Regions from separate parts of the Homo sapiens genome. Here region 1 is linked to region 2. Evidence: fine-mapped expression QTL. A gene starts in region 2. The other region holds a variant in brackets. All regions are shown on one strand. Distances are from middle to middle. Region 1 has its middle 30 kb from the start of MYBPC1. Region 2 holds the start of WASHC3 (WASH complex subunit 3).

Region 1 (2,912 bases), 500 kb before region 2:
AAAGCCTGTCTTGAGCATTGTCTTTGAGCTGCCTCTCCTTCACACATGACAGTGTCTTGAGTCATTGGAAGCTGATGCTTCCACTTCCTCACCTCCGTCTCAAGTCACTTCAATTTGGTTTCCTTTCCTCCTATCCACTAGGACTCACCAAAGTCACTGGTGACTTCCATCATGCCAAATTCAGCAGTCATTTCTCTAGTGTTATTTTCATCCCTCAACAGCATTTGGTACCTTTGGCTTTCTTTCTTTTAAAACTTTTCTTCTTTTCAGCTTCCCTGCTATCATACTCTACTTGTTTTCTTTTTAGCTCTCAAGCCTCTACTCCTCAGTCCCCTTTACTAACTCTGGTCTGCCTGTAAATTTGGAGTCTCAGAGTTTGTTCCTGGGCCCGCTGTCTTCTGTAGCAGCAGAATTTTAGGACATCTCATCTGGACCTGTGGTTCAATTGATATGCCAATGACTCTCAAATCAATACCTCCAGCCCTGAACTCTTCCCTGAATGAACTCTAGATTCAAACAGTCAACTGCCTACTTAATCTCTCCACGTGGATGTCTGTACCAGGCATCCCAAACAGCATGTCCAAAACAGAACTTTTTACTTTTTTTCCCCAAATCTGCTCCCTCTTCTGTCTCCCCCATCTCAATAAATGGCAATATCACACATCCAGAGACTCATGCTAAAAATTTATGAGGTCCTTGATTTCTTCTTTTTCCCCCACCTCCCTACATTAATTCATCAGCAAACCCTGTAAACTCTAATCTCCAAAGCATATCCCAAATATTACACATCTGTCCATCCCCTTGCCACCAGTATCATCCAAGCCAGCTAGACAGATGTAAAAACCTGTTAGCTGATCTCCCTGATTCTGCTGCCACCTGCCCCATAAATCCAATCTCATCACAGCAACAGCAACCAGAAAGTCTTTTTTTTTTTTTTTTTTTGAGACGGAGTTTTGCTCTTGATGCCCAGGTTGGAGTGCAATGGTGCGATCTTGGCTCACCGCAACCTTCACCTCCTGGGTTCAAGTGATTCTCCCACCTCAGCCTCTTTGTTAGTTAGGATTACAGGCATGTTATCTGGGATGTTTGTTATAGGCATGTTTGTTAGCTGGGATTACAGGCATGCACCACCACGTCCGGCTAATTTTTGTATTTTTAGTAGAGATGGGGTTACTCCATGTTGGTGAGGCTGGTCTTGAACTCCGGGCCTCAGGTGATCTGCCCACCTCGGCCTCCCAAAGTGCTGGTATTACAGGCGTGAGCTACCGTGCCCAAACCAAGTCTTATTTATTTACTTATTTTTTTAAAAGTCTTGCTCTTGCCTAGGCTGGAGTGCAGTGGCATAATCATGGCTCACTGCAGCCTCAACCTCCCAGGCTCAAGCAACACTTCCACCTCAGCCTCCCCAGTAGCTGGGGCCACAGGTGTGTGCCACCACGGCTGGCTAGTTTTTGT[A/AT]TTTTTTTTTTTTTGTAGAGACGGGGTTTCACCATGTTGCCCAGGCTGGTCTCAAACTCTTGAGCTCAAGCAGTGTTCCTACCTTGGCCTCCCAAAGTGCTGGAATTACAGACCTGAACTACTGCACCTGGCCCAGAAACTCTTAAAAAATAAAATAAATCATTCCATTTGTCTCAGTTTGTGCTGTTATGACAAATTTCCATAAACTGGTGGCTTACAAACAACATAAATTTATTTCTCACAGTTCTGAAGGCTGAGAAGTTCAAGATCAAGGTGCTTGGCCAATCCAGTATTTGGTGAGGATCCACTTCCTGGTTTTACAGATGGCCATCTTCTTGAATCTTCACATGCTGGAGTGCGGAAGGACGGCAAGCTCTCCTGTCTCTTGTCATAAGGGCACTAATCCCATTCATGAGGCTCTACCCTCATGACCTAATCACCCCTGAAAGACCCACCTCCTAACACCATCACATTGGAGGTTAGGATTTCAACATATGAATTTTGGGGAGACATACACATTTGGTTCATAACACTACTCCTCTTCTTAAAACCTTCCAATGGAAGGTTTTAAGTCATTTATTTTCCCCTACACTTAGAATAGACTCTGAAATCTTTCCTGAACTTCAGAGTGCTGCAGGATCTAACCTCTGCCCATCACTCCAACCTCATTTTGTAACTCCCTGCCTTCCCCTAAACTCCACTCACACCGACTTCCTCCAATAACTCAAACTTGTTCCCATTTAGGGACTTCGCGTTGTCTGTTCCCTCTGCCTCTTCCAGAAACAGTCTTCTCCTTGATCTTTGCCTAGGGATGTGAAGTGTGGACAAAGATGTAACAATAATAAATCTAGAAGGGGGAAGTTCCGTACATACCCATCTCTGCACAGAGTTGCATTTAAAGAAGCTAAAGTTGGCCGGGCGCGGTGGCTCACGCCTGTAATTCCAGCACTTTGGGAGGCTGAGGCGGACAGATCATTTGAGGCCAGGAGTTTGAGACTAGCCTGGCCAACATGGCGAAACCGCATGCCTACTGAAAATACAAAAAGTAGCCGGGTGTGGTGGTGCACACCTGCAGTCCCAGCTGCTTGGTAGGCTGGGGCAAGAATCGCTTGAACCTGGGAGGCGGAGGCTACAGGGAGCTGAGATTGCACCACTACACACCAGCCTGGGTGACAGAGTGAGACTCTGTCTCAAACACAAAACAAAACAAAAAAACAAGAAGCAAAAGTCAACAGAAAAAAAATTATAAAAGTCTTCCACTTTTGCTTGCATCTCTCAAAGAAATTTCAAAAAAAAAAACCCAAATGCATATTTCACTGCAGCACTTATTAAAATCCTCTCTCCTGTCTCATCTACCTCCTTTGCACTCTGCAGTTGCAAACCTTTCTCCAGCATCTCCAAACGTCTAACATCCATTCCCAGAATGTTTTCCTTTCACTCTAACTCCTACTACCTCC
Region 2 (2,912 bases):
AAAAACTGTTTTCAACTGTGAAATTTTAGAAGCCGGGCGCGGTGGCTCACGCCTGTAATCCCAGCACTTTGGGAGGCCGAGGCTAGTGGATCGCCCAAGGTCAGGAATTCGAGACCAGCTTGATCAACATGTTGGAACCCCGTTTCTACTAAATATAAAAAATTAGCCAGGCATGGTGGCGCATGCCTGTAATCCCAGCTACTCAGGAGGCTGAGGCAGGAGAATCGCTTGAACCCGGGAGGTGGAGGTTGCAGTGAGCCGAGATCGCGCCACTGCACTGTAGCTTGGGTGACAGAGTGAGACCCTGTCTCACAAAAAAAAAAAAAAAAAAAAAAAAAATTAGATTTCCTATTGTTCCCTTTAATCGCAATAAGCCTGACTGACCTATCTCACAGGGACCTCTAGAACACTAACTCAGTAGAGGAGGGGTGCAGGATTGATTTTAACAGAGTAAAAGAGAACCTAAGATGTGTTAACACAATTGGGTGATGAGAGGTCACGGTACATGAATAAAGACTGTAATTCTTGTTTTACTCCATTTGTCAGTCTCAGCAGTGAAAGGTGATTTCCAGGCGACTCTATAAACCAGTATCACCGGACCTACCTCCTCACAAACTGTAGAAAAGCGGTTGAGGAACTGTACAGTGTGCACCACAAATTGGTTTAGAAAAGCCACCGTTCTTTTCTGTTGAATAGCTGGCACCTGTGTTACGTAAAAACAAACATGGTTCATACAGGAGGAACGTACACAGTGCAAATCTTTTCATATTTGGACATAATCACGAGGCACTTTGCTGTGTGATATGAATTTCTTGAAGGACTGGGAATAGTCATTAACTTGTTTCCTAAGCTGTGGGTGGGGTGTCCGAAGATGACAGAGGTGCACAAAAGTTTGAGAACAGGCTCTAGACTCACTGGTACGAATTTTGGCAGGCAAAAAGCACCACACATAAACACACACAAAATCTTGGGGGCTGAATAAGAGGTAGGGCTAGCTATCGCAACCGGCGTGTGTCGCCGGCGGCAGAGAGACAAGCGAGATGGGAAGCGACAGTTGGGAGATGCACACCGTCTCCTTAATCAGCTCAGGAGGGACCCCATTTCAAGGTGGACTGTGGGGCTCTCCCTCCTGAGGCCCCACAGGCCTGTCACAAGGGCCCGAGGCCGTGACAGGGTGGGGACTCGGAAGGTGGGTGTCTCCCCGGAAAGCTGCGTCTTCCCCATCCTCCTCCCGGCTCGTCGGGAGTCTAGCACCGTCTTTTACAAACCTTGGTCAGGTCTATGCCTGACCCCATGAGAGGAAGCCCGTCCTCATCCATCTCCTCAGCGGGCGGTGGACCCCGAGTTCACCCACAAACCCCTCCCAGATGGGGCCCGCCCAACCCGGTAATCACGTCTCAACTTTCCCCCCAAGTGCCCGCCTCCGGGGCCCTTCCCGCCGGAAGAAAGCTTCTCCGCTCACTAATCACTCGGCGGCTTCCGGAGAGCCCGCCTCCTCGCTCGGCATTCTGGGATTGGTAGTTTTAGTCCAGATTGTGACGTCAATTTCGGGGTGGCGCGCGGTGGTGCAAGGATGCAGTTAGAGCACTGAAATCTTAGAAAGGAGGCAACAAAACAAAACAAAAAAACAAAGCCAGAAGTTGCGTCCTTTTGAGGTTATCCCTACTTAGTCCTGTCTGTTATATAATAACTCCGTCATTCCTTGAGCAACAATTTTTTTTTTGTTGTTGTTAATCCTAAGTGCCATATACTCTGCTAGGCTTTTACTGGGAAAACAAAGATTGAGTTTGATTGCTGCACGGGAGAGGTTTATGCCCTGAAGAATGAGAAATAAGACCTACTTCCAAAGCGTGTGTGTGTGTATACACACAAGTTCTCGCTATTTCCCCAGGCTGGTCTCGAACTCCTGGCCTCAAGCGATTCTCCTGCCTCAGCCTCACACGATTCTCCTGCCTCAGCCTCACAGAGTGCTGGGATTACAGGCGTGAGCCAACGCGCCTGGTCTTCCAAAGGTTTTTAAAACATGAAATAAAATGTCAACTACTAGATGTGAGGCACAAACCTACGGAAGTGACTGCCACTTACAGGGAGCATCAAAAAGATGAAGACCAAGACTGCAGTGGGCAGTTTTGTTTTAAAGATGGGGGGTCTCGCTTTGTTACCCAGTCTGGCGTGCAGTGAGGATCATAGCTCACCTTAGTCTCAAACCCTTTGGCTCAAATGATCCTCATGCCTTGGCCTCCCTAAGTGCTGGGATTATAGGTGTGAGCCACTGGCACCTGGCCTGTTGGTTTGGTTGAAGCAAATAATCCCATAAATGGAGAATGGTAGGAAATGAGGTAAGAGTGTTACTGGTGGAGGGTGTCCAGGTTCTTTTGAACAAAGAATTGGACAAAACGCACAAATCAAGGAGAGAATGAACCAACAAAAGCAAAGATTCATTGAAAACCAAAGTACGCTCCACAGTGTACTGGATACAGAATCTTCTTAGGTCCAAATACCCACTAGAGATTTCCCATTGGACACTGGTGTTCTCCTCATGCAAATGAAGTGGTGGCCCACAATCAGTCTGATTGGTTATGGAAAGCAACCAATCAGAGGCTGAAGTAAAATGACAAAGGTCATACTCCTATACAAACATCTGATTGGTTGTGGAAAGCAACCAATCATTGGCTAAAGTGATGTTACTTAGTTGCACTTCTATGCAAAGGAAGATTTGGCCCGCAATCAGTCTGATTGGTTGAGGTACTTTCAATTTCCATCTGCCTGTCAGAAAAGGTGGGGATTTGCAAAGGGAGTAGCCGCTGGTCCTTTTGTTACTTAGGTGTGGAAATTTGGGGTTTACCTTTTGATTTAGTTCTAGGAAGTCAGCGTGAATCGGCGTTAGGTTCCCTGCCTCCAGACCCTATTCT

The links. PIP is the estimated chance that this variant, and not a neighbour inherited with it, causes the effect.
Region 1: its variant is fine-mapped to the expression of WASHC3 in rectum (CEDAR, PIP 0.95).

The regions. Positions count from the first base shown.
Region 1 is chr12:101,563,338-101,566,249 of GRCh38, forward strand. No RefSeq gene overlaps it. Among named protein-coding and RNA genes, the nearest start is that of MYBPC1, 30 kb to the right of the region's middle. The variant A/AT (reference allele first, on the strand shown) is at 1,456.
Region 2 is chr12:102,060,644-102,063,555 of GRCh38, forward strand. WASHC3 (WASH complex subunit 3) reads right to left here and starts at 1,348. Exons shown (of 7, transcript NM_016053.4): 1 at 1,269-1,348; 2 at 605-703. The coding sequence starts at 1,319. RefSeq lists enhancers at 1,007-1,056, 1,067-1,266.